Linked DNA regions of Homo sapiens. The protein of the gene in region 1 purifies or fractionates together with the protein of each later gene. This does not show direct contact. Each region holds a gene or a part of one and is shown on either strand. Other genes may lie near its edges.

Region 1 (3,967 bases):
TTGAACCCGGGAGGCAGAGGTTGCAGTGAGCCGAGATGGCGCCCTTGCACTACAGCCTGGGCAACAGAGCGAGACTCCGTCTCAAAAAAAAAAAAAAAAAGTAACCAATGCAGGAAACCGAGAGGAGAGGTTTGGAAGGTGGTTTAGTGAGGTAATCCATCTTTTCTAGTGATAAACTGGCACCCAGTCAATTTATTCATCAGAAGGGAATACATCAGCCTGGCGTGGTGGCTCGCCCCCGACCCTGTCAGCGTCACCAGCAGCGCGGATCCATGGGCCAGAAGCCTCTAGGGCGCCTAAGTCAGGGGGTGGGTCCCCGGCTGCAGGAGGGCGGGAACGGACACTCAGTGCCACCGCGGAGGCTGCACGGTGCCCAGCGCCAGGGTCCAGCTCCTGGATCGCAGGTCGAGGAGGGGCCACGGGCGGCTCACTGAAACCTCCGCCTCCCGGGTCCAAGCCATTTCCCTGCCTCAGCCTCCTGAATAGCTGGTATTACAGGGATGTGCCACCATGCCCGGCTAATTTTGTATTTTTTTTTTTTTTTTTTTTAGTAGAGACAGGATTTCTCCATGTTGGTCAGGCAGTTCTGGAACTCCTAGGGTCAAGCGATCTGCCCCGCTCAGCCTTCCGAAGTCCTGGGATCAGGACTTTGCGATCCTGGGCAGATCGCTTGAGCCTAAGAGTTCCAGACCGGCCTCACCAACATGGAGAAACCCCGTCTCTACTAAAAAAATACAAGATTAGCCTCCACCGTGGACTCAGGTGCAGCTCCCACCTGAACATGGCACGCGGCAGCAGGGGCTGCAACCTCGACCCTGTCAGCGTCACCAGCAGCGCGGATCCTTGGGCCAGAAGCCTCCAGGGCGCCTAAGTCAGGGGGTGGGTCCCTGGCTGCAGGAGGGCGGGAACCGACACTCAGTGCCACCCAAGAGGCTGCACCGTGCCCAGCATCAGGGTCCGGCTCCTGGATCGCAGGTCGAGGAGGGGCCAGGGGCGGCTATGTCAAGCGGGCCATGTGGCATGGCGCCCCCCACTTTCCGCTCCAGGGAGGCCCGCCAGCCTCGCAGTGCCTCAGCGGCAGTTGCCACCTGCACGCGGTGCCCGGAGAACGCGGCCAGGGCGCGTGTCTCCTCAGCCTGCTGAGCTGCGCATGCGCTGCTGGCTAACGGCTCTGCTCAGCGCGATTCTACTGAGAGAGGCCTGAGTGTGCAAGAGCTTGGCGAACACAGAACTTTTTACGGGTATCGAGGCGGTGCGTGGACTGAAGAAGGGCGAGGGCGATTGGGGAGGGGTGGGGGGTGGTGGCTGGGAAGGGCGATCGGGAGGCGCGGGCACTCTCTAGCAGGTGGCCGCAGCCATGGAGGAGATCTCTGCCGCCGCTGTCAAGGTCGTGCCGGGCCCGGAGCGCCCGAGCCCTTTCAGCCAGCTAGTCTATACCAGCAACGACTCCTACATCGTCCACTCTGGGGATCTTAGAAAGATCCATAAAGCTGCCTCCCGGGGACAAGTCCGGAAGCTGGAGAAGATGACAAAGAGGAAGAAGACCATCAACCTTAATATACAAGACGCCCAGAAGAGGTACCAGGCCCTGCCTGAGCCGGGGCTGCAGGAGGAGGTGGGGGCGGTGGGAGGATCGCCCCTTCAGAGTCGGGGGCTGGGGGGCCTGGGGAAGAAGGGAGCAGGTGGAGGAGTAACGGGCAGCGGGGCAGCCATCCTGGGCCCTCGGGTCTAGGCCTTCTTCCTGGGCAGGCCCCCAGGCTTGGGATGCGGGGTCCCTGCAGGGCGGAGGGCCCATGCCACCTTAAAATCAACCCCAAACTTTAGCTGCTTTCTCCTTCACTCCCACTTCCTCTCACAGAGGACTGTGTAGAGAATTTTAAAGTGATTTAACTCACAAAATTAAGTACATACAGGGTTTTACATTTAATGTACAGGTTTTAAAAGATAATGTTAGATACATTATGAAATGGTGCGTAATGAAATAATTCCCATAATATATGTACTTCTTGGCTAAAAATTATCTGGATAGAGTCCAATATCCATTTTGATATCAATGAATGTCTATGTAAATATGTTCTTTGCTGAGGGACCTTAGAAGGAAACTTCGAGGTGGGAAGATGGTTTATGTTCTTGAATTTAAGAAGACTCATTTTTCTCAGGATGCGAGTTCTTTATCAGTTTTACATAAACCAAATAAAGTTATCAACGTTTTAACATTTTTTAAATTACACAGGCTGTCTTTTACTATTGTGATGACATTTTAAATATTTTGTAATGGAGTAAAAAAGTCTTGCCCTTCTAGATATCAAAATGTGGTATTAATTTGCACAAGATGAGCCGGGAGTGGTGGCTCACGCCTGTGATCCCAACACTTTGGGCTGCGGAGGCAGGTGGATCATCTGAGGTCAGGAGTTCAAGATCAGCCTGGCCAATATGGTGAAACGCCGTCTCTACAAAAATACAAAAATTAGCCGGGCATGATGTCGGGTGCCTGTAATCCCAGCTACTGGGGAGGCTGAGGCGGGAGAATCGCTTGAACCCGGTAGGCGGAGATTGCAGAGAGCCGAGATCCCACCACTGCAATTCAGCCTAGGTGATAGAGTGAAACTCTGTCTCAAAAAAAAAAAAAAAAAAAAAAAAAAAAAAAAAAAAAAATCACAAATTGTTCGCTAACAGCTGAAAAGACAGGTAAATAAATACAACAGAATAGAAAATCCACAAACACCCAAATATATGTAAGAATTTAGAACTTGGTAATGGTCACACTTTATACTAGCAGGAAAAGAATTAGTTTCCTAAGTGAAATGCCTGCTTTTTGGAGAAAACTAGATTTTTGTGCCACAAAATAAGTTCCTGATGGAATATAGATTAAAAGTTTTTAATGTACAAAATGATAAAAATACCGGAAGAAAATATAAATGCCTATTTACACAGATACATTTTTATCTTGACAAAACCTTTTTAAGAAGCTCAGAAGCAAGCACTCTGAAGGGCAATTTAGTAAAACAGAAATTAAGTCACCCTGCATATGAGAAAAAATAAAGGGCAGCATACTTGTAAAAATATTTACTACATATGTATGTGTGTGTGTGTATACATATTAGATTTAAAAATCTTCGCTTTATAGAGAATTCACTCAAATCAACAAAAAACCCTCTAATTTAAAATTGGGAAATTTAAATTAGAGATCTAAATTGCAGATCTAAAAATTGGGCAAAGTCCTTTTTTAAGATCTGCAACTGACCTATGCACACAGGAAATAATATTTAGTGTTCCTGGTTAGAGAAGGCATTTAAGTTAAAAAAGGAATCAAATACTGTTTTCTATCCACAAAGTTTGTGAGGATAAAAAGCAGTGATATTTATAGTACTCCTTAAAGTTTAAGTTGCAGATGACTTTTCAAATAGACAATTTGATGGTAAGTACCATATTTAAAAAATTGTATATGCCCATTAGTGATCAATTCTATTATACTAAAATATTTTTAGAAAATAATGAAACATACATGCAATTTCTTTTCTGAGCACTTCTTAAAATATCAGTGTATTAAAAAGAATCCATTTAATGGCTTTTATAAATACATTTCAGTGAGTTTACAGCATGGGATAATAGTTGACCACTCAAGGTAGAAATATATACAGAAGTATGTTGACATTTGAAAATGTATTTTGGTGTACCAACTGAGGGTAAAGTTCAGTTTGACTATACATACACATAGACTATGGTCTTGTGTTATCTGAAATTATGTACAAAATATAAAATTTGTTATTTGAGGACATTTGTTTTAATATAAAATGTTTTTCCTTTTTATTATCTTTGATTTATGCATTGAGCATGTACAATGCTATTAGTAAAAGTTTATTGTTAATAAAATAATTTTTGGGAAGATCAGCAATGTGAAATTTGCACAGATAAAAATAGTTTCTCACTTTCTATGTTTTAATTTTTATTTTTTGTGGATTAGTAT
Region 2 (4,047 bases), on another chromosome or scaffold:
ATTATATTTGCTTATAAATGTATTATTTCAATCAAAATTAATATTATTCTTAACTATTACAGCATTTTATACATAGTAAAGCCACTCTGCTTGCTGAATTCAGTTTATGTTCATGATATTTACAGATTTTTTTGAATCTACTTCTGTTATGAACATGGCATGCCACTTAAAGAAAATTTAATAATAATTTATCCTTCTGTTACTCTCCCTCTTGAAAGTAATTACAGCCTTTTCAAATAATTTTTATGTCTTATGAAGTTATGAATTAACTAATGGGTTAGCTAATTATGCAAGAATGTATTTAGGTTATAAGGTAACAGAAGTTAGGTGCACTGGACAGTATCTGGCAAGTATGTGTTTTGGTGTCAGGCAAATCGCTTAGTGCCATTTAGTGCCATTAAGTAAAAGCTTGTGACTTTGGGCAATTTCAACTTCTCTAAGCCTCAGTTTCCTCATGTTTAATATAGGATAATAATACCTCCCTCATACGGTTATTAAAGGATCAAAAGAATTAACACATGTAAAGCATTTCCTATAGTGGTAAGTAGATATTTAGACAGATATGTAAGAAATTAAATTTCTGTATCATAATCCTTAAAGCTTCACGTTTACCTTTTTTAAGGCAAATGGCAAAGAAAACGTCTACGAAAATCAACTACCTTGAGTTCTATAGTAAAAAGGGAACGATTACAGGACATTAATTATATAACCAGTTAGCATCTAGTTTAGTTTCTCCCCTGAAAAAATTAAACCTAAACAGTCTAGTACTGATGTTTCTTCTGTTGTTTAAACTCTCCAATGGCAAAGATTCCACCGTTCTTTTGACTAACCTTTTTAAAATGTTTTGTCAGTAACCACTTCACGAATTGTTCTGTAACAAATCTTTCCCTAAGCTTTTCTCCTTCCATTCTGTTCTTATTTGAAGATGGAAGGTAATTATTCAGCACTTTTCCCTTACCCAAAAAGGAATTTCTTCCCTGGAGTTAATATTTTTTCTGTTTTAAATGAGTCCAAGTGATCAACTTTGTTTGTAAGACGTACATTTTATTTTTTTAATTTTTATCTTTACCCTCTCTGAATCTTCTAATTTTCCTATAAAAACTGAAAAAGTGCTATTAGAAATAATATCCTACTAAATGCATATTAACAAAATGAAGAAAATTTAAAAATTATTATCATCTCTGACACATCACACTTACCATAGTGCAGTGCAGCATCGTGTTACTGGTTCAATACAAGCCCTGAATCGTGCTGATGCACTGTGCTCTAAATGTGCTTTTCTGATTAACTTTCTCTACACGTTATTCATCCATTCTAAGTGTATCACTCTAAATAGTTGAATGCCATACTGTGTTCTGTTAACATATGAGTTTTTTAAATCAGCGTGGTGAAGCCTTTCAATGCAAGAACACAAAACCTAGAAGCTAAGAAAAAAATTAATAAATATAATCACAGTTTCAAATTTCTGTATCAGAAAAAGTCATAAAGTCAGTGACAAACCGAGAAAAATATTTGTACCATATATGACAAAAGGCTAATGCCCTAAACACATATAAAGGATACCTAAGTTTTCAAAAAATGCCACAGTCCGGTAGACAAATATATAAAGGAAGTTTATGGAGAAAGAAGGACAGATGGCTTTTAAACATTTAAAAAGATGTTCATCCTCACCTATAAGACAAATACAAATTTAAACTGTAATCACATCATTTTTTACCTATCAGATCATGAAGTTTGGAAATGCATTGTGCTGGCACTTTCACATATTATTGATATAAGCACATGTTGGTACAGTCTCCGGAGCACAGTTTGGCAGTATCTTTCAAAAACTGTAAATGTATATAACCTTTGACCCACACTTGCACCTGGAAACATTTTTGCCAGGAAGCAAACATATAAAAATACTGATTGAAGCATTGTCTCTCCTTTTAAAAGATTAAAAACCATACAAATACCCAACAATAGCAGACTGGTTATATGGAGTATTCACACAGAGGAACAGTTTGCAGCTATTAAGAGGAATAAAGTATAGTAGGCCTAATATAGAGCTATTTCTAAGGTAGATTATTTAGAAGAAAAACACAAGATGAAAAGTGTTTATAATACTTTCATCATTTTTTAAATTAAAGGAATGAAGAAATACATATATTCTCATTTAAAATATTTACGGAAACATACTTTAAAACTGGAAATAGTGGTTGTATCTGGAGAGGGGTCTATGGAATGAAAGACAGCAATGGGAACGAGACTTCCTTTATGCTGTCTACCGTTTTGTACTGTTAGATCTTTTTTTACTATGTGTATATGTTATTAATTCCTACTAACATTTAAAGATTATTTTTCTATTAGACTTGTTATAATCTATCATCACTTTATTATCAGCCTTGCATTGTGTTGGCTTACATTAGTTTGTGTTTTAGAAACTTTCCTGATTAACTTTTATGTAGATGTTTTTCATCCATCTGGAATATGTTTTACAATTCTAAGCGTATCACCCTGAGCTATAGAATGTCTTATTTGACCTGCATTTCTCTAAATTAATAGACATTTTAAAGTTTCAAGAGTAAAATAGAAATTAATTTTAAAATGATCACTGACTGGGCACAGTGGCTTACACCTATAATCCCAGTACTTTGAGACCAAGGTGGGTGGATTGCTTGAGCCCAAGAGTTCAAGGCTGGTCTGGGCAACGTAGTGAGACCCTGTCTCTGAAAAAAATTAAAAATTAAAATTAACCAGGTGTAGTGGCTACTGAAGAGGCTGAAGTAGAAGGATCACTTGATCCTGGGAGGTCAAGGCTACATTGAGCTGTGATTGTACCACTGTACTCCAGCCTGGGCAACAGAGCAAGATTGCCTCAAAAAGAAAAAGATCATTTACAAAACCCTTTCCAATAAGACCATTTCAGTACTTATAGGTTGTGATGCATTCTTCTTTGTATTAATCTAAGATTTTCCACAGAAAAAGTAACTACTTACCGATTGTTTATTTTAATTGCAGCTCAGTGTGATTACAGTGCAGAGAAGAAAAGCAGCCTCCCTGATGAATCTGGAAAATATTTAAAAATATTCATAGTTCACTCACAGAACTTTAGAGTTGGGAAAGCAGTTGGACTAGAAGTGTATTGAAATGGTAAAGCCTGCAAAGTATAATAGTTAAGGCTTGTGTTATTTCGCGTAAGCATTGTTGTTCTGTTTTGAGGGTTATTGGAAAACAGAGCAGTGACCACTTCCTGTAAGTAAAGAAAATATAATCCTATATTGAGCTTCAGTGGAGAATAAACCAGCTGAGAAGAACTCATTGCCTTCATCAATGTGTCTGTTTTTTAATTCCTCCTTTTTCCCTTGAAAGGACATAATAATTTTCAAACTATGCAAATTTCTCTTTCATAAGAAAGAGTTTTTAAGAAAATTCTAGAATTTAATATTTCAGTTTCCAAGATTTGAGAATTTTACATCTAATTGTTACTTCTAACTCATTTTTAAAGTTCCTAAGTATCCATTTTATTATGAACTCATAAATGTAATAAATTGTGCACTTTCTAAAATGATGCTGTCATGTATTTTAATGTATGATTGTAGTGCTTCATTTTTAACTTACGGTTTTCAGTATTTATGGAACTTGATATTTAAGAATTTGGAAGGTGTCTTTTACATGTTACTTAAAGCAATACTAATCAAATGGAGATCTTAGGTGCTAAGACTGCATGGCATTGAACTATTGAAGTCCTATTGATCTTCATAGATACATGTTCCTATTCTCTGGTTTGAACTTAGCGCACCCTGGTTTCTGTTGATTAAAGCAGAGAGGTTTGCATCTGGATAACCAATTAGGAGACTGCTGCAGTTGTCCAGATAAAAGATAATGAGTTTGAGTTGAAGGTGACATGAAAACATTCACGTGTAGATATTCAGCCATCAGTCAGAAATTTAGTAATGGTGCTAACAGTTAAGATAGTCATAGGAATCTTTTTTTATTATTATTATCATATTTTAAGTTCTAGGGTAAATGTGCAGAACATGCAGGTTTGTTACATAGGTATACCTG

What was found. Proteins that work in one complex are often made in the same cells at the same time.
Region 2: the proteins of ANKRD30A (region 1) and SCLT1 purify together in Homo sapiens (affinity purification with mass spectrometry; one large-scale study listed by BioGRID and IntAct). This does not show direct contact.

Annotation. Positions count from the first base shown.
Region 1 is NC_000010.11:37,124,431-37,128,397, forward strand, and holds the start of ANKRD30A (ankyrin repeat domain-containing protein 30A), read left to right. Parts: upstream 1-1,167; 5' UTR 1,168-1,357; coding exon 1,358-1,578; intron 1,579-3,967.
Region 2 is NC_000004.12:128,883,493-128,887,539, reverse strand, and holds the end of SCLT1 (sodium channel and clathrin linker 1), read left to right. Parts: intron 1-3,000; coding exon 3,001-3,063; 3' UTR 3,064-3,547; downstream 3,548-4,047. UniProt on the Homo sapiens protein: Adapter protein that links SCN10A to clathrin. Regulates SCN10A channel activity, possibly by promoting channel internalization.